Homo sapiens: one gene and its partners. The protein of the gene in region 6 purifies or fractionates together with the protein of the main gene of each other region. This does not show direct contact. Each region holds a gene or a part of one and is shown on either strand. Other genes may lie near its edges.

The links.
Region 1: the proteins of TOR1AIP1 (region 6) and PDIA5 purify together in Homo sapiens (affinity purification with mass spectrometry; one large-scale study listed by BioGRID and IntAct). This does not show direct contact.
Region 2: the proteins of TOR1AIP1 (region 6) and NCAPD3 purify together in Homo sapiens (co-immunoprecipitation; one large-scale study listed by IntAct). This does not show direct contact.
Region 3: the proteins of TOR1AIP1 (region 6) and CHCHD3 purify together in Homo sapiens (affinity purification with mass spectrometry; one large-scale study listed by BioGRID and IntAct). This does not show direct contact.
Region 4: the proteins of TOR1AIP1 (region 6) and TOR1B purify together in Homo sapiens (co-immunoprecipitation; one study listed by IntAct). This does not show direct contact.
Region 5: the proteins of TOR1AIP1 (region 6) and PPM1A purify together in Homo sapiens (affinity purification with mass spectrometry; one large-scale study listed by BioGRID and IntAct). This does not show direct contact.
Region 7: the proteins of TOR1AIP1 (region 6) and ADPGK purify together in Homo sapiens (affinity purification with mass spectrometry; one large-scale study listed by BioGRID and IntAct). This does not show direct contact.

Annotation. Positions count from the first base shown.
Region 1 is NC_000003.12:123,118,679-123,123,132, forward strand, and holds part of PDIA5 (protein disulfide-isomerase A5 precursor), read left to right. Parts: intron 1-4,454.
Region 2 is NC_000011.10:134,203,245-134,207,698, reverse strand, and holds part of NCAPD3 (condensin-2 complex subunit D3), read left to right. Parts: intron 1-966; coding exon 967-1,100; intron 1,101-2,727; coding exon 2,728-2,800; intron 2,801-3,527; coding exon 3,528-3,653; intron 3,654-3,792; coding exon 3,793-4,045; intron 4,046-4,454.
Region 3 is NC_000007.14:132,788,159-132,792,612, forward strand, and holds part of CHCHD3 (MICOS complex subunit MIC19), read right to left. Parts: intron 1-4,454. UniProt on the Homo sapiens protein: Component of the MICOS complex, a large protein complex of the mitochondrial inner membrane that plays crucial roles in the maintenance of crista junctions, inner membrane architecture, and formation of contact sites to the outer membrane.
Region 4 is NC_000009.12:129,805,467-129,809,219, reverse strand, and holds part of TOR1B (torsin-1B isoform 1 precursor), read right to left. Parts: intron 2,033-3,753; coding exon 1,857-2,032; intron 316-1,856; coding exon 188-315; exon of another isoform or gene 152-187; intron 1-151. UniProt on the Homo sapiens protein: May serve as a molecular chaperone assisting in the proper folding of secreted and/or membrane proteins. Plays a role in non-neural cells nuclear envelope and endoplasmic reticulum integrity. May have a redundant function with TOR1A in non-neural tissues.
Region 5 is NC_000014.9:60,283,381-60,287,834, forward strand, and holds part of PPM1A (protein phosphatase 1A), read left to right. Parts: coding exon 1-157; intron 158-2,243; coding exon 2,244-2,361; coding exon of another isoform or gene 2,362-2,384; exon of another isoform or gene 2,385-4,454. UniProt on the Homo sapiens protein: Enzyme with a broad specificity. Negatively regulates TGF-beta signaling through dephosphorylating SMAD2 and SMAD3, resulting in their dissociation from SMAD4, nuclear export of the SMADs and termination of the TGF-beta-mediated signaling.
Region 6 is NC_000001.11:179,905,807-179,910,260, reverse strand, and holds part of TOR1AIP1 (torsin-1A-interacting protein 1), read right to left. Parts: intron 2,439-4,454; coding exon 2,397-2,438; intron 1,657-2,396; coding exon 1,588-1,656; intron 1-1,587. UniProt on the Homo sapiens protein: Required for nuclear membrane integrity. Induces TOR1A and TOR1B ATPase activity and is required for their location on the nuclear membrane. Binds to A- and B-type lamins. Possible role in membrane attachment and assembly of the nuclear lamina.
Region 7 is NC_000015.10:72,776,745-72,781,198, forward strand, and holds part of ADPGK (ADP-dependent glucokinase isoform 4 precursor), read right to left. Parts: intron 3,471-4,454; exon of another isoform or gene 3,453-3,470; intron 1-3,452. UniProt on the Homo sapiens protein: Catalyzes the phosphorylation of D-glucose to D-glucose 6-phosphate using ADP as the phosphate donor. GDP and CDP can replace ADP, but with reduced efficiency.

The DNA of each region.
Region 1 (4,454 bases), on a different chromosome or scaffold from region 6:
TGTGAGTTTCTTGGGCACAGGAGTTGTGTTCATGTCTATTTCTTTAGCACATAGCACAGGGCTAAGCTCACAGTAGATATCCAGTATATGCCGATGAATGAATAGGGTTTTTGCTCATCACTCCTGGGGGTATGTTTTATTTTAAGCTCTATATTAAAAGTGATGGTCCTCTCTTTTAAAGGAATTCAGAGCATTTGTTATTAAGGCCGGAAGCATAGTGGGAAGGACATTTGTGGGACAGGTTATAAGGTTAACTGCAAAGACCACTCGTGTTCAGAATATAAGCTTCCAGCAGGGCATGGTGGTTCATGCCTGTAATCCCAGTGCTTTGGGAGGCCAAAGTGGGAGGATCACTTGAGGCCAGGAGCTAGATACCAGCCTGGGCAACATAGTGAAACCCCATGTCTACAAAAAATTTTAAAAATTAGCTGGGTGCAATGGCATACACCTGTAGTCAATGCTAGCTACTTGGGAGGCTGAGGTGGGAGGATCACTTGAGCCCAGGAGTTTAAGGCTGCAGGGAGCTATGATTGCACCATGCTCTGCACAACAGAGTGAGATCCTGTCTCTAAAAAAAAGAAAAAATGAATTCCAGCTTCTTCTGCCTGGGCCCAGGTCTAGAAATATAAAAGTTACCCATTCCAGTTCCCTCAACATTACAGAAAAGTCAGGGGCGTTGTCTGCAAAGCTGGGCAAGTCAAGCTGTGACCAGGTGTTGGCTGCCTTGGCCTAAGACATCTGGGTTGTGTAAACTCATTTCTTTGTTTGTATATTTTCTTGCTTGGGGTTTGTTTTGTTCTATTTTCCCTTTCATTTCCTAGAAAAGCATCTTCTGGAAAGTTCTAGCCCTTTCCCAGCTACATAAAGAGGGAAGGGCCCTGGCCGCTGCACGCATCACCCACGCAGGAGGCCCCTAGAGGCTAGGGCTTACTCTGCAGGGGCAGCTCCCCAGAAACTGGGGACCTGGCTGGAGGGGTTGAGTGACCACAGGTGTCAATTGCTTTTTGTCTTCACACACAGAAAAGAGGTGGGACTAATAAATGGGCTGCTATTCCCCAGAAATCAAAGTTCACCCCCTCCTCGCTGCTGAAACACAGCTGGATTAGGGCCTTCTGTCACTTCTTCATCTCTGTCATCTTTGAGCCTTTTTGGCTGGGTCTGTCTCTGGCAAGGGTCAAAAATCTTCCTCCTCTACAGATTTTTTGGGAGGTGTTCAACCTGATTGACATCATTAGGAAGGAAGGCATGCCAGGTCAGGGATGCACAGCCTTTGCCATTTCCAAACTTACAGCTGCCTCTTTTGTGCTGTCATTGACGTCTGGTGACTCATCGCGTCTGTCCCATCTACTCCTGCTAATTGACATCCTCATTAGCAGCCACGCTGCCCCCATCTCAGAGCAGCCATCAGAATGAGCCCTGTCTCCATCTGCCTCTTCCCAGCCTTGCCAGTTATTGACATCTGCACTGAGCCTTTGAGCTTTGCCTAGTCTTTGGTGGACCTCGGCCATGATGGGCCAGTCTGGGTATAAACACCATGAAATAGAACCATCATGACGACAGATTTGTACAGACCAGGCTCTAGTGCTGGCTCTTGCTAACCAGCTGGGAGATCTTGGTCCAAGCTCCTTAGCCTTGGAGCCTCCATTTCTCCATCTGTAAAATGGAGATGATAATGCCAACCCTGCCCACACTGGGTTGTGGTGAGGAACAAATGGGCTGTGTGGAAGAAGCCCTGTACCCCACAGAGCACTCATAGACACAGATGACTGATCCCCTCTCTTCCCTACAGCTGCCCTGCACCACATTCCTTCCACCGGCTAGATGGGGGTGCTCCCAAGGTTCCGCTTTCCTGTTAACACATTGGAGCAAGGTTTTGTCTTATTACAGTCTACCTTCCAGTGACCACATCTCTGTCCATAGCTTCAACAAAACGTAGCTCCATGGAGCCCAAGTCCTTCCCCTAAGTGCCAGTGCCACGTGTCAGATGGCTTGCTTCACAGCTCCATCTGGATTTTTTCCCTTGTGTCTCAAATGCATGTCTGAAAATTCAGTATCTTTCCATCTGGCAGACTGTGAACTTTGCATTAAGTCCTTTCCCCAGGGGCCAGGCTCTTTCCCCACCCCCCACCTCCACCTCTCTTTACTGAGGCATCATCAGGCATCTTCCTCATGCACCCTTCATCCTCTCCCTGCCCACCAGCCCTGTCCAGTGGGCTATGCTAGCTGGTGGCCAAAGGCTGCTGACTTGTCTCCTGACCACAGCATTCCCTCATAGCTCGTCCTTTCTGCTTCGAGAGATACAACTGGTTTGAGGGTTGCTTTCTTACTTAGAAACCCTCGGGAGCTCTCCGTCACTTCCTGAATACAGTCCCGATTTCTTAGGTATTTCAAGCCTTTCCCAAAGTGATCCTGGCCAACTCACTCAGCCTTTTCTTTCATGTCTTCTCCTTTCTGTGTATCCTGCCTTCCAGTTAGATGGAAATGTGCTCCATTTCTTGGGCCACATCTTTCTTTGCCTTGCCTCCAGTTCCCCATCCCGGGACGTCTGTTGAAATCTTACTCTCCTCTGAGTGCAAGCTCACATGCAGCCCACGCTAAGAAGCTGCCGTGATGGTTCCTGGCAGCAGGGCTGAACACACAGAAGAGCATGTCACGCCAGCTGAGTGGCCCCAAGCATGCAGATGGCAGTGGGGAGCAGGGAGGCTGTGTTCTTATCTTCTCCACAGGCCGAGACCAGGTGTGTCACCTCATTTGACTTCACAAATTCTAACTCCAGAAAGTGTTTGTATGTAGTTTTTCAAAAATTTTTGCCTCATTAACTAATAGATGCCCCCAAAATGGCACAAAAGTGCTACAGAAACTTGGAGAATTAAGAGCTCACCCCAAGCGAAGGTGGTTTGCAAAGGCTGCCCAGAGACGTGAGGTTTGATTTGCCTTAAGGGATGGGTGAGTCTGGAGGGTCGCCAGGAGGCGGGGGATGGGCAGCCTCAGTAAGGGGACTGGAAGGCACCAAGTGGGGGCCAGGAGAGAACAGCGAGTGTTCCAGAAGTGTGGGCAGAAATAGAGCACCTCCTAGTCCTAGTAACAAAAATAGCTAATACATTTTGTGTTATTGATTATCTTGTATTATTTCATTGAATCTTCTCAACAACCACATGAGGTGGCTGCAGATGAGGAAAGTGAGACGCAGAGACAACTGTGACTCATTCAAGGAAATGCGCGACCCCATGGGGAGTTGGGACTCAAACCCAGGCATCCTGAGTCCATGCTTCCAGCCACTGCATGTTGCTGCTGCACTCAGCAAGATGTCTGAGAAGGCAGACAGTCCAACTTCCTTCCTGTGCAGAAATCTCAGACTGTCTTATTCCTGGGAGAATAAAAAATCTAGACCCTAACAGGTGTACAATGAAGAGTTTTGTAAGAAAGAAAGATTCAAAAATGAAATAGGTAACATATGGGCATTGAATGTGGAGCTGGATTTTAGCCTATATTCAATGGAATTGGAAGGTTTTGTGCAGGGAAGTGATGTAATGAGCGAGGAGGACGTGTAAGATTAATCTGTGGTGAATGTGCACTGACACTGGGGAGATCAATTAGGCAGAAAAAAAAAGGACTTTTAAAGAAGACAAATATTACTGGAACAGGCCGCTGGAGCAGTCTGGGAAATGAGCAGAATGACTTTTATAGAGCGTTCCAGGGCTTCAAGTAAATTCGAATTCAAATTTATTCTTCCTGTATTATTTGCTGCATCCTAAAATGGGCTAGGAAAAAAAAAACAGTGAATTTAGTGAGCATTTATTGTGTCCTTGCTGTATGTGAGGCCTTGTGCTAGGGACTTAAAACAATTGGAAAGATATCCAGGTGCCCCTAGGAATGGAGAGGCCAGAGGCACAGTGGCTCCCATCACCAGGAAGACTTGGTAGGAAGATGACAGTTACTGAGCTCCAGTTTTGTGCTAAAACCTCTCATCTCATTTAGTTCTCTAAAGAGCCCTTTGATGGTCACATCTTCCAGCAAGGGACCTCAGTGAGGGTGAGTGACTTGCCCAAGGTCACATGACTCATAAGTGGAAGCTGTCTTTGCAATCAATTTATTGTCCACTGAAACGGTTATTTATTTTCCTCTCTCTCTGTGTCCTTATGTATTATTCAGTAAAGTTCAGCTTCCTGGGTTTCTTCTCTCTGCTTCTGTAACTACTGCTGGCTTTTTTTACTTACTTTTCCCTCGCTTCTATGCCACTCTGCTTTGTGGAACAACCTTTGTGTGTCGGGCCATTCTAGCTGTGTTCTCTGGTAAGAACAGATTCAAAGTCCTGGCTGGGCATGCTGGCTCATGCCTGTAATTCCAGTGCTTTGGGAGGTTGAAGTGGGAGGATCGCTTGAGCCCAGGAGTTGGAAGCCAGCCTGGGCAACACAGCAAGACCTCATCTCTACCAAAAAGAAAAATATACTAGC
Region 2 (4,454 bases), on a different chromosome or scaffold from region 6:
GATCTCGGCTCACTGCAACCTCAGCCTCCCAGGTTCAAGTGATTCTCCTGCCTCAGCACCCCCTAGTGGCTGGGACTACAGGTGCGCGCCACCATGCCCAGCTAATTTTTGTATTTTTAGAGATGGGGTTTCACCATGTTGGCCAGGATGGTCTTGATCTCTTGACCTCGTGATCCACCCTCCTTGGTTTCCCAAAGTGCTGGAATTACAGGCGTGAGCCACTGCGCCCAGTCGGTATTTTTTTTTAATTGTGAAAGTACTGACTTGATGTCAGGCAATGTTGGTTTTTAGCCTTATTTTTAATTATTTGATCTTGGACAGCTCACCTTTGGAGCTTTTTTTAATTATCTGTGAAGTGGAAATTATACATGTCCTGCTTACATTATGGAATTGTTGTAAGGTTTAAAATTAAATGTATATTTTATATATATATAGTAAAATCTAGCTATGTAGATGAAAGTGCTTAATGCAATACCTACCACTTACTTGGTTTTCAGTAAATGTTTTATTTATTGGATGAATAAATTAATTAGTGACTATGTTATATGAGATAATATGTTGGAAAGTGCTTTGTAAACTGGAGGCAAAAAGCAGGTGTAAAGTATCGTTCTTTCCCCTTTTGAATAAGGGAACATTAGTAGCATTCTTTGCCCTATGTAAATGACAGTTAATTCCCTATTTGTCCTAAATTCTGGGTTATGATATGCAAAGGGTGGGGAGAGAAACTAGGTATTGTTTTTATCAGACATATCATCTGTCAGCCATTCTTTCACACTGTTTACATTGTGCATTTATTGTATCCCTGCTCATTGTTTAAGAAATATATCCCTAGTGTTCAGCCAGCAATTATGCCAGCCTGACCTACCTTCAGATGGCTTGAAATGGTTTACTACAGTCTGCATCACTATGTCTGAGACCCTTGTGTTCTCCATCCGATCTTAAATTGAATTTTCTTTTCTCTTCTAGGTCATCAGTTGTGTTTTCCATCAAATGCTCAGTGTAATATTAATGTTAGAAGTTGGTGAAGGATCCCATCGTGCCCCCCTTGCTGTTACCTCCCAAGTCATCAACTGTAGAAACCAGGCGGTCCAGTTTATCAGGTGAAGCACACAAATCGTGAATTTTCACCCTGTCAGTCTCCCTCAGTACTCTGGGCCCTGCACTAAGATTTCTGATACATGTAGACTTAAAATTTCTGGCCTGATGGTGGTTTTGGGGGTGAAAACCAAGCACTTCGTAGCTAATGTGCTTTATGTGTCTGGGTCTCTGTTGGTAGGCTCCCAGCTGGGGCACTGTTAAAGAGATAGGAATCTGCAGAACACGGGCCAGCGCCAGCCTCCAGCTTGTTTGCGCTCAATATGTGGGTCAGCCTCAGAGAGAGGATGGTGGCCTCTCCTCCTTTCCCTTGTCTGCTTCATTGCAGCCAGTTCACCTCTTTCCCTTTTCTGTTGCTCTCTACTTTGCAGCTCTTTGCTTTTGTTCTTTGCCACTTTCTTCTTGTTTCTTTGCACTTTTCTATTCCTTTCCCTCTGTAGAAATGACTTGAAGGAAAGGATTGAGTTGCTTTTTACCTCCGTAGCAATAAGTGTTAGACTACTTTTCCTCTCATGGGTCACTCAGCTTCACTTAAAAACTCTCATGCCTTAGTTTCACTGGCAAGGACATGTTTGCTGCGTTGTTGGCTTTTCCTTCCCTCCTTCACTGATTTTTGGCGTGCAGTGTGGAGGTGGTGCCGAGACATGGTGTGCATGTGCAAGTGTGTGCATGCCTTGGGTGTGCACAGTGTGCAGGGTAGTTGGAGACATGGGGTGTGTATGACGTCATCTTGTGACTGAGCAAATGTCTCTCACTAAGGACTTTTTAAAACATTAAGTAACTAAAATGTTTTAAGTGAAAACACGATCGTTTCGTTTTTTCCATGAGAGTTTCTCATATGCCAGTCGCAATAGTCTTCATGTAATGTTACAGATAAACATCACTAAAAATGGATCAAGTCTGGGCATTGTAGAAATTTCTTCTTGAGGCGGGGCGCGGTGGCACATGCCTGTAATCCCAGCACTTTGGGAGGCCGAGGCGGGCGGATCACCTGAGGTCAGGAGTTGAAGACGAGCCTGGCCAACATGGTGAAACCCTGTCTCTACTAAAAAATACAGAAACTAGGCGTGGTGGCGGGCACCTGTAATCCCAGCTACTCGGGAGGCTGAGGCAGGAGAAACTCTTGAACCCGGTGGGGGAAGTTGCAGTGAGCCGAGATCACACCATTGCGCTCCAGCCTGAGCGACAAGAGCAAAACTCCATCTACAAAAAAAAAAAAAAGAAATTTCTTATTGGGTTAAAGTTTGGAGAAGTAATGTTACTAATGCATTTCACTGAGCTACCATGAGGTGGTACTGTGTCTTAGTCAATTTTTATATTTATCCCCAAAGGATATATTTTACATCTTCATATGAAATTTAGTAAGTAGTCAAAAGAATTGTATGAAGATTACATTTTTGTTCTTACCTGATGACTTAGCTACTCTGCAGCAGCTCTCAAAACTGCACGGGAACTACTTCACAGTTTTCTACGATGACATTTTATGTCTTCACTCTTCATTCTACTGAAACCACTCTTATAGCGTGAGGTAGAGTGTTTTAATAACTAGGATTTCTAAATATAGGAGTAGTGGTTTTTGGGGACAGTCGCTGACTGTATTGTGAACAGTAGATGTGTTTTTCTTTTACAAAGCGCCCTTGTGGATGAATTAAAGGAGAGTATATTCCCAGTCGTCCGTATCTTACTGCAGCACATCTGTGCCAAGGTACTGTTTGCCTTAGTAATATTAATAACATGGAAGTATATCGTGTGTGAAGATAAATGTGTGTGTGTGTGTGTGAGTGTGGGTATTTGTTCTTGGGAATGAGTGTGCATTGTTACTTAAAGTGGTTTTATTTAATGTTCACTAGATGGTCCCCTAGACAAAAGTGTTCTATAAAAAACAAAAAAACAAAAAAACTTTGTTTTGGAAAAATGTTGAACATACACACAGAAACAGGGAAAATAGGCTGGTGAACCACCACATACCCATCACCGAGTTCCACAGTTTTGTGTCACTTAAACCCCTACCCCACATCCCCCAACATGTGTATACTGGATTGTGTTTTGAAGCAAATTCCATCATATCCTTTCACGGTAATTCCTTAATATTATCAAACATCCAGTGTTCAAATTTCCATGATGATCTCTACATTTTTATAACCATTTAGACAAATGATTCTTAATTTGAACCTTATGAAACCTGGGGATCTAAAAACTCTCTGAAATTGTATACTAAATTTGTATGTGCATTTTTCTGGAGAGATGGTTTATAGATTTCCTTTAGATTAGTTTTGAAGTGTTCTAAAACCTAAAATTTATTAGTCATTTACGTAACATTTAAAGGTCATTGAACTAGTTGTACTCACTGACTTTCAACTTATATTACAGAATATGTTTCAGCCATCCTGCGGGTGGATATTGGTTGGTCAACTTCTCTTTTTGCTTTTCAGGTGGTAGATAAATCAGAGTATCGTACTTTTGCAGCCCAGTCCCTAGTCCAGCTGCTCAGTAAACTTCCTTGTGGGGAATACGCTATGTTCATTGCCTGGCTTTACAAATACTCCCGAAGTTCCAAGGTAGGAGATAGCTCTGCATAAAACCTTGGGTCCTTTTTAAACTCTTTTTAAAAGGGTCTCTTTTTCTAGGTCTGAATGAGGAGGGTTCTTTGGTTCTTACTCCTATCTGATGGCAATTCTTATGATCTTGCTTTACCAGATCCCACACCGGGTTTTTACTCTTGATGTTGTCTTAGCTCTGTTAGAACTGCCTGAAAGAGAGGTGGATAACACCCTCTCCTTGGAGCATCAGAAGTTCTTAAAGCATAAGTTCCTGGTGCAGGAAATTATGTTTGATCGTTGCTTAGACAAGGCGCCTACTGTCCGCAGCAAGGCACTGTCCAGCTTTGCACACTGTCTGGAGTTGACTGTTACCAGTGCGTCGGAGAGTATCCTGGAGCTCCTGATTAACAGTGAGTATGGCGACTATTGGGACAGTAAACCGGTCTTGTGCTCATTGAGAAATAGACTGCAAGGGAATCGTTCTTTTCTGTGGCAAAAGTAATAGGTATGGCATGATCTATTTTTACTCTCAAAACCATTTTTAGTATATTTTCTTGCCAAATAACTTTTTAAATAGGCAAGCCTGATACATTTGCAAGGCCTTTTAAAAGTATTTCAGATGTTCATATCTGAGAGGTGACATTGGTGGCTACCTTTACTGTTGCTTTGCATTGGTGGGCATTGGTCGTATTAGGATGAATCTCCGTTTCAATGCATACCCAAGGAGAACGTTATCAGTTGTCAGCAATTTAGAATCTGTCTGCCTTGTCTTTGAGCCTAATTATCTTGATTTTGATTCCTCCGTGGATAATTACTCAG
Region 3 (4,454 bases), on a different chromosome or scaffold from region 6:
ATAGACAACCTCACTACATCATGCTTTATTAAATACAAAATGGAAGCCAGTATCAAGCAGATCTATACTGAGCCTATCTAAGGGAATGCAGTTACTAGAGAAAGTGATCTCTTTATAAATGATGCCACTTAGCCATTTGCATTTGGGGGGGTTATAGATTCACTGCTTTCTTCAACACACTGATGGGAGCTTTGAGTTGTCATCTGCCTGGTCAAGATTACATAGCTGTACCCCTCTCTACAATTTTGGGCTTAGGGTTACAAGGATAACCACATGACAATGTACCTCCTTTCAAATATTGCAAAATAACCTGCAGCTGCCACAACTTAAGGAAAGCAACAGTTAAAGAGTGTTTTCACGAGTCTAGAGATTGTTTTTACTATTCTCTCTGCAACCTCAACCAAATATAGATGGGTAATTTTTCAGCCAAATCATATCATGCTAAGAATGTTAGGCTCTCTTTCAGAAAGAGACAAGATGGGGCCTGGCTGGTCTGAGGATGAGCAGGCCAGTCTCACATAAAGACACTAAAAGAAGTAACATTTTAATAACCCCTTTAGCCACATTCACAAAATACCGTTACATGTATTAAAATTCTAATCCTCCAAGATAGCACAGTGGTTCAGCTGATTTGTGGTGACTCCTTGAAGACATGTGGGACCACCACAGAAAAGCACCAGGGCTGATCTATAAACATTTTGTCAAACTGCACTCACTTGCTACCAAAGGGTGGCAGGGGTGGTACAAAACCATCTCAATTCTATCAGGGAAATTAACAAACACAATGGCAGGCTGGATTTTTAAAAAAGATGAATTCATCTGTCAAACATTTTGGGTTATTATTATATTCCAGCTATGCGACAAAACCTGCTCCAACTCAGAACTCAGGGCTTTTGGCTGGAGGGATCCGTAGTCTGGTGGGGTCTGTGTTATTCAGCTTTCACCTTATAGGTTCTACTGTCTCTGTATTGGTTCCGTAAGTACTGCTGTTGGGCTGAATTTCAACGCTGCATAAATTTAACACTGCATAAATTAACATAGGAAATTCCCTAAAGAATGAGGGAGAAGCTTTGCAAGTTATAAAAAATTGCTTCCTTCATTTAAGGAACTGCTAACACTTAATCTTAATGTGGAGAAAGAAATTCCTTGCTTTTGCTCATCATTCACGTATCTGGGCCTGCAGAAACTCCTTTTATAAACAGCTGGGTAAATCACCAAAAGAAGAGAGTGGTTCAGGCATGAACACTGCTCTTTTCCCAAGTCTTTTTCTCATTCCAGCCACTGAAGAACAACCGGCAGCTCACAAATAAGAACAGCGCCCCTGGAGACCTGAGATTGCGTGTCATTTCCGCTTATTAAAACCTTACTAACCATCCTAACCGCTTGCCTCAAATATTTCTGTTAAGCAGTAATCTCATCAACTGATTTTTGAATCACAGCTTTCTTGGAGGGGTTGACTATCATAGCAGCATGCCAGCTACTGGTTGTGTTGATAATTTAAGAGAAATGATGGCAACCCTGGGTTGCTAACCAATCATCATGAAGAGAAGAAAAGCGGTTTGTTTTTTAAGATACCACTCAGGGTGCTTGTCTCTGGATGAACTTACCCAGCGCCTCACCAAGACTTCAGGCCTCATAAAGCTGGGTAGAGAAGCAGGAAGGTCTACCTAACCAAGGAAAAATGAAACTGGAGATGTGTCCTGGCACAGACCTGGTCTTAAGACACGAGTTTTACTAAGGAGGGTCAGGAAAAGTGGGGAGTGGGAGACACTGGAGCTTCGATGAGGAAAAAGCCAGAATGAGAAGACTGTGCATAAGACAGGAAGGAAAAGTCATCTATAAATTGAATTTATGGGAAGCACAAAGCGAGTTTTGCCTGTGCACCAAGTACTGTTCTTCACTACCTGGAAATCTGATTAGATCACTTATTTTGTTTTCAATATGTGTCTATTCCCCTGCAGCAAGAGCTGTTTGTTCTTTGTTCCTCCTGCTTTGGAGGAAATAGAAGTTAACTTTTTTCTGCCTGGATCTTGTTTTATATCTTCTATGACAAATGCTCTGTATAATATTCAAATTAAGTTACAAGTAATTAACTGTTTATACAGCTGGCTGCAATAACAGACAAAACACTAACATACTGCAGTTCTAATTGAAGGATGACCATGGGAAAAGAAATACCTATTAAGAAAAATGAAAATCTATTACCATGGTAGTATTTCTTCTATTAAACTCAGATTTAAAAAAAGAGAAAATGTCACGAAGCAACGATTACTCTCAGAAAGTGGTTTAGAAAAGGATTCCTATGATGGAAGAGGTTGGGATAGGAAATTTAAAGTTTGGAATTTTGTTTGCTTTGATCTGACTCTAAATTCAAAGGGCTGCCCTACCAAAAAAATGGGAAATCTATTATGAAATACCCACGTGTCAGTCACCCTGTGACCAGCATCCCAGCTGGGCAATTAATAAATGTCATCAAGCGATAATGATAAAGCAGCTTTCGAACACAATAAAAACATGCTCCTGGGGGGCTTCCCAGAAAGTTAACCTTCTTGATTATCTTCGTGCTCTCTGAAAGTGGCCACCGTGTACATCGGGGGGACCCTGATGTGGGTCGGGGAGAGAAGCAGGGTGACTGGGAGCAGTAGAACCAAGGGAGGGTCTGGTCACAGCTGTGAGCTAGCCAGGGGACTGGGGTCACCTACTGTTTCAATGGGAGCAAGAGAAGAGGGGAAGGGGATCTCTTTTCAAGGCTTCCATCTGATTCCCACATCATCTTCCAATTTGTTCTTAAGGCTAAAGATTCATTCCTAGGGTTGGTCTGATGAGACCTCTGCCAGGTAGCTTTGACCTATAGGGAGTGATAGCTCCCCATCTCCCAAAAGATGGAAAACAAGGACTTGGCAGGACCTCTGAAAGGTCAAAGACCTTTAATGCAATTCAGGCCAATGGGCTCTAAGAGCAATGGTTTTCAAACTTTGGGTACAGAGTCTCCTGGGAAATTTGGTCAAAGTTCAGATGCCCAGGCCTCACCCCAGACCTTCTGAATCAGAATCTCCAGGGATGGGGATTGGGTGGGTACATTTTAAGCAAACCCCTCAGGGGATTCTGATGCTCACCCACATCTGAGATCTGACACGACAGGAAAAATACCCTGGTTTTGAATTTAAGAGTGGGCTGTTTGGTCTGGGTTCTGCCCTTCTACAGATCATTTAAATTCTCTGGAAGCTAATTTTGCACATGAAAAAAATGAGGTTGGGTTATATGATCTCTAGGGTCCTTTTAGCTCCAACAGCCTATAAGTCTATTAAATCATTTGCATCTAATGTAGAGTTCATCTGAAAACAATGATAACATACAGCTTGCTCTGGCAATAGGTTTTTCTTTCAAGAACCTTGATTTTTAAGCAAAAGCTACTACTATGTTTTCAGGACCCCTTCATACTCAAAATATGTCACAGACTTAGGAGCAGAATCCTGGTCTAATATAAATACAGTTCACCGGGGAGATGAAATTGTCCTTCAGAAGGCGGACAGAAATTGTGCCAGGGCAAATTCCTCCATATGCACTGATCTTGAGGCTTTGACTTAGGAAGCCAACCAAATACTGGAGATGTCAATGATATTTTAGAAACGAGACAACGGGGTGCACTAGCCTTAAGTTGGAGAGCTGTCACATTAGGATCTAGCCTCATTTACTGGGTCCTGACCCCAAGTTCCTCACTGTGGCCAGGTTCCTTTCTGATCTCTCCAAAGAGATCAGCAGGAAGCATGTAGGTCTGAGGTGGGGCTGTCTCATTTACAAGACGTCCTTATTGTGAGCTGAACTAACTGTTTGCGTGGCTACTGTCCCACTGCCTGCTTACTGACTGAAACTTCTGCTATGGTTTGGGGGACCCCTGACAGACTCATCATCTAACTGCAGGTCCCACACTGACCTCTGTCCCTTGGGCATCTCCTGGGGTTGGTCCTTGCCTCTGGTCCCAGTTTGCCCTTGGTTGTCAGGCTCCAGGTTCCTGGCTTCCTGCTCTGTTTTCAGAGTCACACTTCCCATGGTACTTCACAGGATGAAAGGCATCACGATCCAGGGGAGGCTTACGGCTGGCTGGAGGGAGCCTGCATTTTCTAATGGCCTTTATTAGCCGGCAGGGTACATTCTGCCAGCCAGTGCAGAGACAGCTGTTTTTCACTTCACTGACTTTGGAGAAACTGTGAAACTGTTTCTATTCCCTCCCAGTTCTTTCTGCCACCTTGGCTTCCCCAGGGCTGTCAGGAGTGTGAACCTCAAAGAAAGGGTACGTAGCAGTGGGAGGCCAGGCAGCAGCAGACCAATCAGAAATGCAAGTGTTCTTCTTGAGTGAACGTTTAAGGTGGACAGCAAAATTTAAGAGGCGAAGGCACAAATACTGGAGGTCTCAAAAGGAGAGGTGCTGCTTGTACCAAATAGGCCATGTCTCT
Region 4 (3,753 bases), on a different chromosome or scaffold from region 6:
AAGCCCATGCAGGACTCAGCTGGACACTCACTCACTGGTTTCTAGCACAGTATGCCCTAAGAAAATTCCTGACTTTAGCAAAGTGAGGAAATCCAGTGGGATCCTGTGGCTTTGTGAAACACTCAATGAAAGAGCAGACGGCTCACTGCTGGACAGTTAAGGGGCTCCTTTACCCTGGTGGACTCACTGTGTTTATTATTGAAGACTCCGACAGACAGTACAGGTTCCAGGTCCTTCAGCTGAATGTCTTCCCTCTTTCTTCCGGCCCGCCAAAAGTCAAGAGCCGTCTTAGTTATAAGGTCCCCGCCTGCATTGCTGAGTTTGCCAGAGAAATAAAGATTAAAATCACATATTAAGACTTCTGTGTCTGCTGGGTGTGGTGGCTCATGCCTGTAATCCCAGCACTTTGGGAGGCCGAGGCAGGTAGATCACCTGAGGTCGGGAGTTCAAGGCCAGCCTGACCAACATAGAGTAACCCCATCTCTACTAAAAACACAAAAATTAGCCAGGCTAATGGTGGTGCATGCCTGTAATCCCAGCTACATGGGAGGCTGAGGTGGGAGAATCGTTTGAATCCGGGAGGTGGAGGTTGCAGCGAGCCGAGATCATGCCATTGCACTCCAGCCTGGGCAACAAAAATGAAACTCGGTCTCAAAAAAAAAAAAAAAAAAAAAAAGACTTCTGTGTCTTACCAAGAAATGAATCTGCTCTAAGTCTATTTTTCCTTTTGAGACACTCTGTCACGCAGGCTGGAGTGCAGTGGCGCAATATCAGCTCACTGCAACCTCCACCTTCCGGGTTCAAGTGATTCTTCTGCCTCAACCTCCTGAGTAGCTGGGATTACAGGCGCCTGCCACGACGCCCCTTCTAATTTTTGTATTTTTAGTAGACACGGGGTTTCACCATGTTGGCCAGCCTGGTCTTGAAATCCTGACCTCAAGTGATCTGCCCACCTTGGCCTCCCAAAGTGCTAGGATTACAGGTGTGAGCCACCACACCCGGCCGAAGATCTATTTTTCATCAAGGAATATTTACTGAGTGCTACTAGACAAAAAAGTGTGCTCTCATGGAACTTAAAGTGTTTATTCACAACTAGCTGGGATAATGCTATGGCCCTTTATAACCCTAAAAACCAACATGCACAGTTAATAAAATTAACTGTTTTCATTTCTGTTTCATTTTTAGGGTCGGGGTCTTGATTGTCACCCAGGCAGGAGTGCAGTGGTATGATCATAGCTCAATAAAACCTTGAACTCCTGGGCTCAACCAATCCTCCTGCCTCGACTTCCCCAGGAGCTGGGACTCCAGGCACATGCCACGATGCCCAGCTAAAATTGCCTGCTATCAGTGATTATTTCTTTTTTTTTTTTTTTTGAGACAGAGTCTCACTCTGTCACCCAGGCTGGAGTGCAGTGGTGTGATCCCGGCTCACTGCAAGCTCCGCCTCCCGGGTTCACGCCATTCTCTTGCCTCAGTCTCCCGAGTAGATGGGACTACAGGCGCCCGCCACCACGCCCGGCTAATTTTTGTATTTTTAGTAGAGACAGGGTTTCACCATGTTAGCCAGGATGGTCTCGATCTCCTGGTGATCCGCCCGCCATGGCCTCCCAAAGTGCTGGGATTACAGGTGTGAGCCACCGCGCCTGGCCCAGTGATTATTTCTTTAGTTCATTTCCACAACCCACACTGTGTGCCATGCTGAGACTGGCAAAGGAAAAGTAAAGCAGTAGGTAAGTGCCTTGTGCCAAGCAGGCACTTTCGTCCTGGTAAACAAAGTGCTGATGGTCCTCAGGACCTCATTTTATCATTGAGAGAATGAAGGGCTTGTGTGCCCCAAAAAACCGCCTCCCGCTGACCTGAGAAAGATGAAGATGGCTTTGCGGTAAGACACTCCGTCAACCTGCTCGTAGTAGTCTAGAAACGGCTTGATTGCGTCAATGATCCCGGGGTGCAATTTATCCATCTCGTCAAATATGAAAACAGAGTTCGCACATGCACTCACATTACCGCGGATCCACTTCTGTAACTGGTCCTGGACCAACCATGAAAGAAGAAACAGGATGCGAAGCTCAAAGGGTGCACCAAGAGGCGCGCAGGCTCCATCTGCTCCTCATGCACTGAAGGACGAGGTCAGAGCTCTTAGAATGGCACCCTCACCCCCACTCGCTAGGTAGCAGCTTTTCTAAAACCTTATCTCTAAAAAGTGGAAATTGGCAGAGATAGATGCTAAAATGCAGAGAAGTTTTTTCCTAACTCAAATGACTATTAAATCTGACTTTTTAAAGGTATAAGAGGTACAAGATCCGTGATTCTTTTCTTCTCTTTTTTGTCTTTGGAAACAGGGTCTCACTCTATCCCCCAGGCTGGTGTGTAGTGGCGTGATCTCAGCTCACTGCAACCTCTGCCTCTTGGGTTCAAGCGATTCCCCGGCCTCAGCCCCCCGTGTAGTTGGGACTACAGGCGCCCCGATCCCCTGCACCATGCCTGGCTAATTTTTGTATTTTTAGTAGAGACAGGGTTGTGCCATGTTGGCCAGGCTCGTCTCAAACTCCTGACCTCAGGTGATCCACCCACCTCACCCTCCCAAAGTGCTGAGATTACAGGAATGAGCCACCCGGCAAGATCCGTGAATATCATTCACTGCTAACGTAGCCATAGTTTTCATCTCTCTTGGACTACAATCTCAAGTTAGTACTATCAGACATACTGAGGAATAAGGAACTAGATCAAGACCTGCACAGTACACAGTGCCCCAGACCAACAGAGCTGACTCAATGACATTTCATGAAAAGCATCTGTTCCAGATGTTTTCTTCAAACAAACATAAAGACACTCAAGCAACAAGCCCTCAACCCCAAAGCGTGAAAGGCTATACCAGGAAACTCCCCCAGACATGCCCTCAACCATTTATATTACTCTGTTTCCGGAGATTTATGAAGAATGTAAAGAACAAGAAAATCCTTCCTTCCTTCCTTTTTAGCAGTCTTCCCTGTCTCACGTCAGTTTGTTGGGCAAACACTTCTACTTCCTTGTTCAGTTAAGTTTCTATTTCTTTCTTCAGTCCCCACCTAACAGGAGGAATTTTTTTTTTTTTTTTTTGAGATAGAGTCTTACTCTGTCGCCCAGACTGGAATGCAGTGACATGACCATGGTTCATTGTAGGCTCAGCCTCCCGGGCTCAAGCGATCCTCCCATCTCAGCCTCCCAAGTAGCTGGGACTACAGGTGCATGCCACTACACCTGGCTAATTTTTTTATTTTTTGTAGAGATGGAGTCTTGCTATGTTGCCAGTGGGAATGTTAACCTTGACAAGGACAACATTCATTTAAATGAGAACTAACCCTCCTAGACAACTTAATATAAAATGAATGTGGAAACAATATCTCAAAAGGAGAAACAGTCTCAAGGTTCAGTTCTTTGAGGCTTCCTTTGAAGAAAGCAATGCCAAGGACATGAAGGATGGGAGGAACAAAGGGAATAAAACCTGTTAAGGAGAAAAAAGACCTCTAGGCTACATTGCAAAGAGCAGAGGCAAAGCTGAGGCTGCACCAGAGGTGGGCAGCATTGAATGAAGCCACACCGGAGCAAATCCTTGAAGACTGACTGCCCCTTCTCACCAACTGCACTGCTGGGGATGTGGAATCCCTTCACTCACCAGAGAAGGTGGCTACCATGTCAACTGGGAGTTGGGAGGTTTTGGTTCTGCTACAAAGGTCCTGTTCTGCTACAAAGATTGTAGGAGTAAGTCACCTT
Region 5 (4,454 bases), on a different chromosome or scaffold from region 6:
ATCTGAAGAAGATGATCAGTTCATTATCCTTGCATGTGATGGTATCTGGGATGTTATGGGAAATGAAGAGCTCTGTGATTTTGTAAGATCCAGACTTGAAGTCACTGATGACCTTGAGAAAGTTTGCAATGAAGTAGTCGACACCTGTTTGTATAAGGTAGCTAGACTTTTTTTAAAAACATAAAATGATTTTATGCCATATTAATCACTACTCTAGTATTTAATCATCTTAGAATCTGTAATTCTGAAACCAGTTTTTGGCACAACTGTAGGATACTGTTCACCAATTATGAAAATATATCATAGGACCACTATGTAGAAATAAATTACCCAATTACCATCTCTGCAAGAGTTATAAGCTGAATGTTTAGTCTTACTACTTGAGCTTTGTAATAATGTGGAAGATTATCAAAGGTAAAAAGATTTTATCAGAGTGCATGTTTTGAAAGAAAGAGGGTGGGGAGGGTTAGGCCTCAGTGTCTATAAATGAAAAGCATTTTAGAGTTTTAATATTTGACCATGTGATATCTCAGTACATTTATGATATCCTAATCCTTTGAAACTAAGGTTTAATGGTCTGTAGCACTTGAAAGAGGAATGTAGTGATCATTAGACGTGATGTAATAGAAATAGCCTTGTACATGGAGTCAGAAGAACTTGCTCTGAGACTGTGTATGGTTTTAGGTAAGCTATTTAAACTCTAATCAGTTTTTTTCATCATAAAAAGGATAAGACATTATTATCTTGTCTCATGGCGTTGTCAGGAGGATCAAATGGGATAATATACACAGGTGAGCTAGCTCAGCCCCTTTATTTTACAGATGAGGAAGCTGAAGCCAGAGAAGGTTCTACAAACTTAAGAGTCAGACAGACCTGAGACCAAGGCTTACCTCTATTAGTTTTGTACTCTACATTCCTGAACGAATTGTTCAACCTCTCTCAGCTTTAAAATGGAGATAATAGTATCTTATAAGACTGTTGCCGGGCGCGGTGGCTCACGCCTGTAATCCCAGCACTTTGGGAGGCCGAGGTGGGCGGATCACGAGGTCAGGAGATCGAGACCATCCTGGCTAACACAGTGAAACCCCGTCTCTACTAAAAAACACAAAAAATTAGCCGGGTGTGGTGGCGGGCGCCTGTAGTCCCAGCTACGCGGGAGGCTGAGGCAGGAGAATGGCGTGAACCCGGGAGGCGGAGCTTGCAGTGAGCCGAGATCGCGCCACTGCACTCCAGCCTGGGCGACAGAGCGAGACTCCGTCTCAAAAAAAAAAAAAAAGACTGTTGAGGAATTAATGAGCGTATGTATATATATATATATGTGTGTGTGTATATATATATATACATATATATATATATAATGCCTAGTTTAGCATATAATACATGCTACACCCTTTCCTACAGATATTATAAATGACGTGTACAGGGTTTTATACATTGCTAACAGCATTAAGACTAGAAAATCAAGGCCCTTGACTTGGGTTCAGTGTTCTTTCTGCCACACTCTGTTCTGTTTTGTCAATAATGCTTATTAACTTATTCTTTGATGTTTTTTTAAACAAATGTTGACTTTTTAAAATTCTTCTGAGGGTATATATTTGATACTCAAATATTTAATTATAGCATTTGAATACTTAGATGTCTTTAAAAATGAATGTAGTTCCTAAAAGTTGTCAGTTTTTAAAATTAATACAAGTTAAAAGCTGGTTTATAAACCTTAGGTAGTTTTACCTCTTATTTCATATTTCTACTTATGAAGCGAATGTATTAGCCCCACAATTTATAATTTATTTTAAAGGTAATTTTATCAGGTACATATAACTACAGGTCAAATCCTATTGTAAACAATGCCACTAAAATTTTCTGTCATGTTGTATGGAAGGAGTGTGTGTACACATGTATATTTGTATTAGGTATCACTTCAAATTAAGTCACCAGTAAATGTTTAGAAATAGTATTGTTTTATAGAATTATAAAAAATTATTATTACAGTGAGATTAACCTGTAATGTTTCTCTCCTGTCTTTTGGAGTATTGGTTATACTGTATTCTCTCTATACTGTTCGGGGGAGGGGGAGTCATTGCACACACACACGCACGCATGCGTGCACATATGTATTTTTTTCTCCCTGAAAGTAACATTTTCACTAGAACAAGTATAACTGTAATTGGCACAGCTGTAAAGGTTCTCAAGGCTTTGAAGAGCAAAAAGAAAACTAAAATATTCTCAAATTTTTTTCTTCCCAGGGAAGTCGAGACAACATGAGTGTGATTTTGATCTGTTTTCCAAATGCACCCAAAGTATCGCCAGAAGCAGTGAAGAAGGAGGCAGAGTTGGACAAGTACCTGGAATGCAGAGTAGAAGGTGGATCATTTAACAAAAAATAAGTAGCTTTATTAAAGAAAAATCTTCAACACAATCAAACTTTAACATTTTAGCTTTTAGATTTTTATGTGTCTTTGACAGCTAGTGTCTAGTGTATGAAAGTGGAAAAGGACATTTCTGTAGTAGCTGTTAAGATGTATGCAGTTGTCCTATCACAGTTATATTAGAAATAACAACTAGTGTGGAAAGTAACCCACATTCTGTTCAGGATACTTTTGTTTTAAAAGGCTAAAATGTTTGTGTGCTTTAAAATTCTTAATGAATTCACTGGCATGAGTAATTTTATGCCGGGAAAATCTGATTTGTGGTCTATTTAATTACAAAGAGATTGTGATGGTGATAATTTGAATACCATCTTTCTATGAAAAGCTGTGTATATTAATTTTAATCTCTAGGGCCTTTTTTCAATAACTTGAAAATCACAGCCTCATCATTAGCAACTTTATATACACAGCTTTAAAAAATTTGCTTTAAACTGTTTCAGAGCTTCTTCCCTAAGCCATAAACTGTCTCACCTAAACAAGATAGACCTCAATAAAAGACATAATATTTCTCCACCTGGCAGAAAAGTAACTGCCAAGTAAGATTAAGAAATAAGTTGAGCATTTCTGGAGTATATTTCTCATAATTCTGCAGAGACTTCCAGTTTATTGCATATATGCAGTAAAGTGTATATATTATGCAGTTTCTCTAAGTGGAAAAACTTGACATGACTTTAATAGTGTTAAAACATGAAAATGCTGGTGAGCTGAGGTAGAAAAAAAACAAGAAAAAAATTTTAAAAATAGCGTTAAAATGCATTTTAGGCTCCTAATGTCGTTAATTTGCACGTTAAAGACCTCTAATCGCATGCAAGCATTGACCTACCACACCTACATCCCACTGTGCCTGCATTATTGAAATTACTACTCACTTTAATTTTTTTTCCCCTTTTTACTGTTTGATACCAATCATAATCAGTCTGATACTAGAATCATGATTGGTTTTGTTCTTTAGTACTGTCTAGAGCTACTATTTTGTTTTTATTGCTGTCCGCCACTTGATAGTCATACATCTAGTATGTGTTTGTACTATTTAGTATTGCATTCATTGGACGTACTATTCAACGAATTTGTCTCCTTACTGTTACCAAGGGTCTTGGAATTTTTATATTTTAAATTAATCATTCAATATAAGTTATTTATAGGTATAGTACAATTTTAAAATATTTAGAATGCTACAATCATTGGTTCAAACTATTGATTCATGGGAAAATTTAAATTCATAAGAATAATATGTATAGGGATAAGTTGATATTTAATGTATTGGCACTTTAACTTGGGCAGACATGTTTTCTTATTGGTTTAAAGAAGTAATAAGTATTTTAATATTTTTACTATGAAATGGGATCCAATTTTAGAAATGAATTGCTACTTTTCTCTTTAGTGTGTACACTTTAAGTTTTAGATGGAATTATGAAATATTCACTTTACGTTATTTTGTTACAATAATAAGTTTTATATTTCTTATTATCAAGCAAGAGTTGCCACCTGGACAGAGTTTACATTGATACTCAATATTTTTGATATGTTAAAGTGTTATTATACTTGTACCATTCAATTGGAGATTGTCATAAATTAAATATGGTATTTTTTACTCAGATTTGATGAGACTGCAACTAGAGAATAAATATTACATTAAAATTGCTGCTATTTTAAAACATAGAATGTAACTGTTTGTATTGTAAAAGTTGTGTGTCCTCAGTGAAAAATACTGCCTTCAGCTTCCAAAGCAGGCACCTGAATGCCTTTTTCTTTTCTCTCTCTCTTCTTTCTTTAAATACATGCCTTCACTAGATTGCTGTGACCTACTAAACCTCATTTTATTTGCTTGGAACATTTTTGGCTTCTCTGTCCACACCATAGAAAAGGACAAAGGCCTTCCAGCTCTCCTTTTCTCTTATTTGTTCCCTTCTAAATACTTGACTCTCTGGGGGTGTGAAAAGATTCAGCTCATAATTTATACTACTATTAATTTTGTGGTCCTTCTAAGCCAATTTAAAATTATACTTTTGTGTATATATTTTCAAAATC
Region 6 (4,454 bases):
GAGTAAAGTAGGGAGGTTAAAGGTCACTTAAGGCAGAGAATATGCATGGACTTTAAAAAAATATGGTCGAGATTTAACGTGGACGCATTTCCATAGAAATTATAGAAAGTGAGTTCAAAGTACGATGGTTTTATCACATCAATTTATAGTATTCCTTAAATTCTGTGACATTTAATCCATCCAAAACCTAAACATGAGGCTGGGTGTGGTGGCTCATGCCTGTAATCCCAACACTTTGGGAGGCTGAAGCAGGCGGATCACTTGAGGTCAGCAGTTCAAGACCAACCTGGCCAACATGGCGAAACCCCGTCTCTACTAAAAGTACAAATATTAGCTGGGCATGGTGGCGCATGCATGCAAGTCCCAGCTACTTAGGAGGCTAAGGCACAAGAATGACCTGAATGTGGGAGGCGGAGGCTGCAGTGAGCTGAGATTGTGCCACTGCACTCCAACCTGGGCGACAGAGGGAGACTTCATCTCAAAAAAAACCCAAAACAAAACAAAACACCCCCAAAAACCCAGAAAGGCTGGGCGCAGTGGCTCAAGCCTGTAATCCCAGCATTCAGGGAGGCCAAGGCAGGCAGATCATGAGGTCAGGAGTTCAAGACCAGCCTGACCAATATGGTGAAACCCTGTCTCTACTAAAAATATAAAAATTAGCCAGGCGTGTAACAATACAAAAATTAGCTGGGTGTGGTGGTACGCGCCTGTAGTCCTGGCTACTTGGGAGGCTGAGGCAGGAGAATTGCTTGAACCCGGGAGGCAGAGGTTGCAGTGAACTGAGGTTGCACCACTGTACTCCAGCCTGGGCAACACAGCAAGACTCCATCTCAAAAACAAAACAAAACAAAACAAAACAAAACAAAACAAAACAAAAAACAGAAAAAAAACCCTAAACATGAAAATATAACTTGTGCATTTCAGCCTTTATTATGTAAAATTATGAGTATACAAAGCTGTTCCAAAATCTGCTAAAAGCAAAAAATAAGTATTGTCAAAAGAGTAGAATTTCATTATTGTATACAGACTGTATTGCTGCTATAACTGACAGCTTGTTAAAATCCATCAATCTCTGGTTTTCTCTTTTTTTTTCTTTTTTTCAGATGGAGTCTCGCTCTGTCGCCCAGGCTGGAGTGCAGTGGTGCAATCTTGGCTCACTGCAAGCTCCGCCTCCTGGGTTCACACCATTCTCCTGCTTCAGCCTCCCGAGTAGCCTCCCGCCGCCACGCCCAGCTAATTTTTCTTTTTTAAATATTTTTAGTAGAGACGAGGTTTCACCGTGTTAGCCAGGATGGTCTCGATCTCCTGACCTCGTGATCCACCCACCTCGGCCTCCCAAAGTGCTGGGATTACAGGCGTGAGCCACCGCACCTGGCCAATCTCTGGTTTTCTCACGCCACTATTTACATTCTACACCCAGCCCATGTGCTGCCAGTCCAAGAAATTACTAAACTAGTAATCATAGCTGTACTTTATTAGTGAAATCACAAACAACCTAAATGTTTATCTGAAGAACTAAATATTTTTGTCAAGAAAAACATAGCAAATACACAAGATTATTTCAATAACAGAGATTTATCTACTTACTTTGCATCCTGGTCCTTATTCTTGCAGTTTGTGGGGCCCATTCCTGGGGAGTTTTTTGATATCCTGAGCCTGAAGCAAATACATATATCAAAAGATAATTTCCCATACTTTGAAAGTTTATACCATATTCCAGTGTTATAAAATTAATCTATCAGAAAGACAAAATAAAGTAGGGGAAGAAAACAATAAAAGCAATAGTTTTATAAGTAAAAGATAATTTCAAAGGATCGTATCAGTGAGGATGAACCACTTCCTACAGCAAAGCAGGTAGCAAATAAATATATTATCACATAATACAAATTACTTGTGGTAAAATAGCCCTGAACACATTTCCATATCACAGAGTAATTATTATAGGTAGTACCAATCCGTGGTGAATTAAAAAGGTAAAGAGGGGTAAAATGACTTAAAATCTTATTACAACTTTTGTTGGGAGAATAAGGCAAGGTTAGAATTGATTGACTGAGGCTGGGTGCGGTGGCTCACACCTGTAATTCCAGCACTTTGGGAGGCCGAGGCAGGTGGATCATGAGGTCAGGAGATCAAGACCATCCTGGCTAACACAGTGAAACACCGTCTCTACTAAAAATACAAAAAATTAGCCGGGCGTGGTGGCGGGCGCCTGTAGTCCCAGCTACTTGGGAGGCGGAGGCAGGAGAATCGCGTGAACCCAGGAGGTGGAGCTTGCAATGAGCCCAGATTGCACTCCAGCCTGGGCGACAGAGCAAGACATCGTCTCAAAAAAAAAAAAAAAAAAAAAGAGAAAAGAATTGATTGGCTGAAAAAAGAGCAGACAACCAACTACTTACTTAGCACTGAAGGTTGCTTATCATGAGCTGTGAAGTTTTGACCTGAAACAGAAAACAGGGATAAGGTCATAGAATACTTGAAAATAACAACAAAAAAGATGTTGCACAGACATTTTGCTTGTTTACTGTGGATACTAAAAACAAACAACAGACAAAAAACATTCTCTCATCAATTCCAAGCATATAAATATATAAAGTATATATATATAAAAAACATACATATACTATATATATACATATATATACATATATATATATATATATATATATAAAGTGTGTGTGTATTTCTTTCCCCCTCATTTCTAAACTTCAAAATGTTTAGGAATTGGGCAACAATAAGGAGTTAGTTTAGGATCAGTACCATCAAAATAAAAACTACATATAGTCATATATATCAAGTATAATTTTGTTTAATTCTTTTTTTTTTTTTTTTTTTGAGACAGGGTCTGACTCTGTCACCCAGGCTGGAATGCAGTGGCACAATCTCAGCTCACTGCAACCTCCGCTTCCCAGGTTCAAGATATTCTCCTGCCTCACCTTCCCAAGTACTTGGGATTACAGGTGTGCACCACCATGCCTGACCAAATTTTTTGTCTTTTTAGTAGAGACAGGGTTTCCCCATGTTGGCCAGGCTGGTCTCAAACTCCTGACCAGGGTTTCACCATGTTGGCCAGGCTGGTCTCAAATTCCTGACCTCAAATGCTCTGCCTGCCTCGCCCTCCCAAAGTGCTGGGATTACAGGCATGAGCCACCATGCCCAGCCAATTTTGCTTAATTCTTATGTGGTAGATGCTATTACTGTTCGTATTTTATAAATAAGGGAAAATCAGCTGGATGCGGTGGCTCATGCCTGTAATCCTAGCACTTTGGGAGGCCAAGGCAGGTGGATCATGAGGTCAGGAGATCGAGACCATCCTGGCTAACACGGTGAAACCCCGTCTCTACTAAATATATAAAAAATTAGCCAGGCGTGGTGGTGGGCGCCTGTAGTCCCAGCTACTCGGGAGGCTGAGGCAGAAGAAGGGCGTGAACCTGGGAGGCGGAGCTTGCAGTGAGCTGAGATCACACCACTGCACTCCTGCCTGGGCGACAGAGCGAGACTCTGTCTCAAAAAAAAAAAAGGGGGGGGGGGAACCAAAATTGGTAATTTTTCCAAAATTATATATCTAAAAGTAGTTGGGCTGAGATACAAATCCAGGCAGTCCATATCATATACCACATACCATACCATAAAGAAATGGTATGTACTATCTATGCAGATTTATGGACATTGCAAAGTAGCTATGAAGTAAAACATGCTACTTCAGGTTTTGAGGTGGTATTTAAGGATAACTGTAAAATGACACAATGGGATGACTAAAAAATGACATTACAATTATAACAAGGTAAATTTTCAAATCTGCCCTGAGAAAATGAGTTACTCTTTGATGATAAATACAAGTATCGATTTACATTTATTTATTTTCAACTTTTTCTGAATACAAACATGTGCTAGCTGTTTAAAAAAAGGGGCCATTCTAGAAATGCTTAATTTAAAAATTCATGAATATCTATCTGTTAAGTATCTACTATGTGCAAAACATTGAACATAGAAATATTATGGTAAATAAGACAGATATTCTCTCAGCTTTGTTTTCAGCCTATACTAAAAATATACTTTTAAAAAAGTGGATACATACGTTTTAATATTTTCATCAAATTCTAAGACATACTTTTTAAAAAATGCCCTTTGATCTACAGATATATCTTTTAATTAATGGTATGGCATAGTTTAACTGGATGGTTTTTCTTTCTCATTGATACATAAAATCAATAGTATCTTAAAGTCAATGAAATATATCTTGATCAACTTTTCATTAGGATACAATGAACTAACTCATTTTTCATTTCTAAATAGTATTTCTTTTTTTTTGAGATGGAGTCTTGCCCTGTCACCCAGGCTGGAGTGCAGTGGTGCAATCCCAGTTCACTGCCGCCGTTGCCTGTTGGGTTCAAGCGATTCTCCTGCCTCAGCCTCCCAAGTAGCTGGGATTACAGGCACCTATCACCATACGTGGT
Region 7 (4,454 bases), on a different chromosome or scaffold from region 6:
TGCATCCTCATTATAAGGGTCCTTTTTATTAATTCTTCCCCTAGGGATTCATGTTTTGAAAGGAGTTTTGCCTATCAAATAGCATTTAAATACTCAGTTTCTTGTTCAAGACACACATAATGACTCTGGTCAACTGGAGAAGCATAACCTAAGATTTACTATGCCTTTCAGTGCATAAAACATCTAGCTACTGTATTTGGCCCTTCTCTTTAAAAGAGGGATGATTTCTAGTAAAGAAACACTGAAAATATAAGCCAGAACTTCTCCATGACACACACAGAAGGGGCCATTCTGGACATGCACGTGGCAGTTGCTTAAAGATATGTTTAAAATCTTTCCTTTCACAACCTTCAATGTTAAGAAACCAAACACACCTTGCAAACTGGTCTCAATTTTACCTCAGACATGGTGCCCTTTATTTCTAATGAATGCAACATTAGATTGGTAGAATCAACAGGAATACAAGTATCTGTAGCTCTCAGACGCCAGTAGGTTCCTAAGTTTCAGACAGTGAGGGCTTGAGTAAGGAGGGATACCATTTCCTCCAGACAGCCCAGTCTAAAAAAATTGTATCCAAATGGATTTGGGTCCCGAGTCTGAAGAGTAAAGGTTCAGAAATGGAGGGAAACCTGTCTTTGAAAATAACTACTTCAAAAACTATAAACACCCTCAAGCCTGTAATCCCAGCACTTTGGGAGACCGAGGCAGGTGGATCATGAGGTCAGGAGTTTGAGACCAGCCTGGCCAAGATGGTGAAACTCCATCTCTAATGAAAACACAAAAATTAGCTGGGTGTGGTGGTGGACACCTGTAATCCCAGCTACTTGGGAGGCTGAGGCAGGAGAATCGCTTGAACCCGGGAGGTGGAGGTTGCAGTGAGCTGAGATCGTGCCATGGTACTCCAGCCTGGGCAACAGAGCAAGACTCCATCTCAAAAACAAAACAAAACAAAACAAAACTATAAACACCCCACTCTCCATATCTAGTACTGCTGAGATTTTAAACAGTCTGACTCCTTAAAATGAGAATGGGGAAAGCTGTTCAGTATATTTTGTAACACAAGGCAAAACCCAACAGAACTAATTTTGAGTTACAAAATATCACTATCATGGAACATTTTCCATCCCTCACCTAATCATACCAGGAATACCGGGGGAAAATAACCAGTTTTTCAGACTGGTTCACAGTTTACTTGATAACTTTTTATAATTAAAAAAAACCAGGCTGAGCACGGTGGCTCACACTTGTAACCCCAGCACTTTGGGAGGCCAAGGCGGGTGGATCACTTGAGCCTAGGAGTTCCAGACCAGCCTGAGCAATATAGCAAGACCCCGTCTCTACAAAAAATACAAAAATTACCTGGGTGTGGTGGTGCACACCTGTAGCCCCAGCTACTCAGGAAGCTGAGGCAGGAGGATCACTTGAGCCTGGGAGGCAGAGGTTGCAGTGAACCAAGATGGCACCACTGCTCTTCAGCCTGGGTGAGAGAGCAAGACCCTGTCTCAAAAAAACACTGAACATCTACTACATGCCGGATGCCAAACAAGTACTTTACATGTACTTTCTTGTTCTGTTTTATAATACTTTAACCAGAATAAGAATCTTTCTCTGCACTTTCTCAACTCAATAGCATCCCAAAATGTAAAAAGCATATTACCTAAGGGGCTGTATTGTCAAGGGGAAATAAAGGGAGACACAGTTAAAGAATCAGAAGACAAAATTATGCTCATCTGACATGCAAGCAGAAGCTCACACTTCAGTAAAAAATGTATATTAGATGACTGTGATTTTGGAGAAAACACAGATGAAACAACTAGAAAATAGGTCAAGACAACAGATGCTGAATGTCAAAATGGGTTGGGGGGCTGGCAAAGAGGGCACAGTTCTCCCTTCTAGACCATAAGTGCCTCTAAGGCAAAGACGATGTTTCCTATCTCCTCCCTTCTGTTTCATCACCTGTAAAATGTTTTCTAAGGTTTTCTCTAGCTTTACATTATGTGCATCAGCTGTTATAAGAGCTAATCGTAATTGTTAAGACATAGAACTGTAAAGAGGCGGGGGAAAAATGGCTAGGGCAGTGGTCCCTGTGCTGAACCCTAGCTCCTGCATCTAGATAGAAGAAAGGCGGCTGATCTTTAAGAAGCACCCCACGCTAGGCAGGCATTTTCAGATAGATTAAACCTATTTGCAAAATGCGGTAAGATCGCTAATTAGTCATCACTGCTTTCAGCTGAGAAGAGTGAGGCCATGGATTAACTAACATTCCAAAGCCCACAGACAGGCAGAGCTGAAATTCAAACCCAGATTTATCTGATGATACTGAAACCCACGTAGGAAGTATACACAAGCAAAGTTGTACATGAAGGGATTAACCTTGTGTTTGGATACAATAAAGAATTATCTAGCTAGAATGGAGAATTCATACAGGGGAGAAGACCAAGATATGTTTCAAGGTTCAGGGTGAAGCCAGTTCCAGGGGCAATAAATATTAGCATGAGGGTTTTTTTTTTTTTTTTTTTTTGAGATAGAGTCTCACTCTTGTTGCCCAGGCTGGAATGCAACGGCGCGATCTCGGCTCACCGCAACCTCTGCCTCCTGGGTTGAAGCGATTCTCCTGCCTCAGCCTCCTGAGAAGCTGGGATTACAGAAATGCATCACCACGCCTAATTTTTTTATTTTTAGTAGAGATGGGGTTTCTCCATGTTGGTCAAGCTGGTCTCGAACTCCTGACCTCAGGTGATCCACCCACCTCAGCCTCCCAAAGTGCTGGGATTACAGGCGTGAGCCACCATGCCTGCCGGGTTTCATCATTTTTAAACCAATGAATAGGTACCAGAGTCTGATTTAGAAGCAGGGGAAGTTTCCTAGAAACGCCTTAAAACTCCTCCTATCCTTTACTTCTTTGACCCCTTTTCACCAGCCCCTTAATGCACTAGCATTTAAGGGCTAGTGCCTCCCAGAATTCCACCTTTACCATTTTTACCTTCTCCTCTTCTCTTCCTGGGTGATCCTATCCAGTCTCTGGCTTCAACCTAAGTGCCAGTGTCTCCAAAATTTGCAATCCTGTTTCTCAATATATTCCTAAAAACCAGCTTCTCATTTTCAGTAGCTGACAGAGAAGCTTCATCTGAAATCCCATAACAATGTATGTACATTTCTCCTCCTCTGAAATCCAATTTATCTTCTGAAACTTGTTTTTCTTAAATCTCTCTTAATGGCAACAACATGGCATCAACAAGGAACCAGAAATGGGAAAGACCAGGCTTCAATTGCTCCTCTGGCACTTGATAGCTACAAGATCTTGGGCAAATAAATCAATGTGAGAAGACTCGGTGACAATATCTGTTATCTGCCTCCCTCATAAAGTTGTTGCATTAGTCAATTTTCATAATGCTATAATGAATTGCCCGGGACTGGGTAATTTATAAAGGAAAGAGGTTTAATTGACTTACAGTTCAGCATGGCTGGGAAGGCCTCAGGAAACTTACATTCATGGTGGAAGGTGAAGGGGAAGCAAGGCACCTTCTTCTTAAGGTGTCAGGAAGGAGCCGTGCCGAGTGAATAGCAGGGAAGAGCCCCTTATAAAACCAAAGGATCTCATGAGAACGAACTCACTATCAGGAGAACAGAATGGGGGAACCGCCCCCATGATTCAATTACCTCCACCTGGTCTCTCCCTTGATTAGCTTATGGGGATTACAATTCAAGATGAGATTTGAGTGGGGACACAAAGCCTAACCATATTAGTTGTTATAAGATATTTAATACTGGGCTGGGTGTGGAATCACAGCTGTAATTCCAGCACTTTCAGAGGCCAAGATGGGAGGCCAAGGCCTGATCCCAGTAGTTGAAGACCAGCCTGAGCAACTTGGCAAATCCTGTCCCTACCAAGAATATAAAAATTAGCCGGGTGTGGTGGTACATGCCTGTAGTTCCAGCTACTCGGGACACTGAGCATGACAGGTCAAGGCCACAGTGAGCTTGAACATGCCACTGCACACGCCAGCCTGGGTGACAGAGTGAGATGCTGTCTCAAACAGAAAACAAAAACTAAACAAGATATCCAATATTAAAAACCTGTCGTTTTTGACTGCCTTTCTTTACTCCACCACATCCAAACTATTATTCAGGTTATCTCTCAAATCTCACCTCTTCTACATCATTGCCGAGTTTGGTTCGGGCTCCTTTCTCCCTTTACACAAACCCTACAATGGCCTCTTAAACCAGTGTCAGGATGTCAAGATATTCCTCCTTATGAATCACATTAAATGGCATTTTGAGTGTGTCTGTGTGACAGAGAGTGTGAATACGAGTGTGTCTCTAGAGAAGTCAAACTACAACCTCAAAATGAGATTCTGATACAAGTACTACACCTGCTCCCCCTCATCCCTCCTATATCCCCCTATCTTTGGGCTAAAAATCCTCTTTGGGTAATAAATGATGAGAAGCAGTGA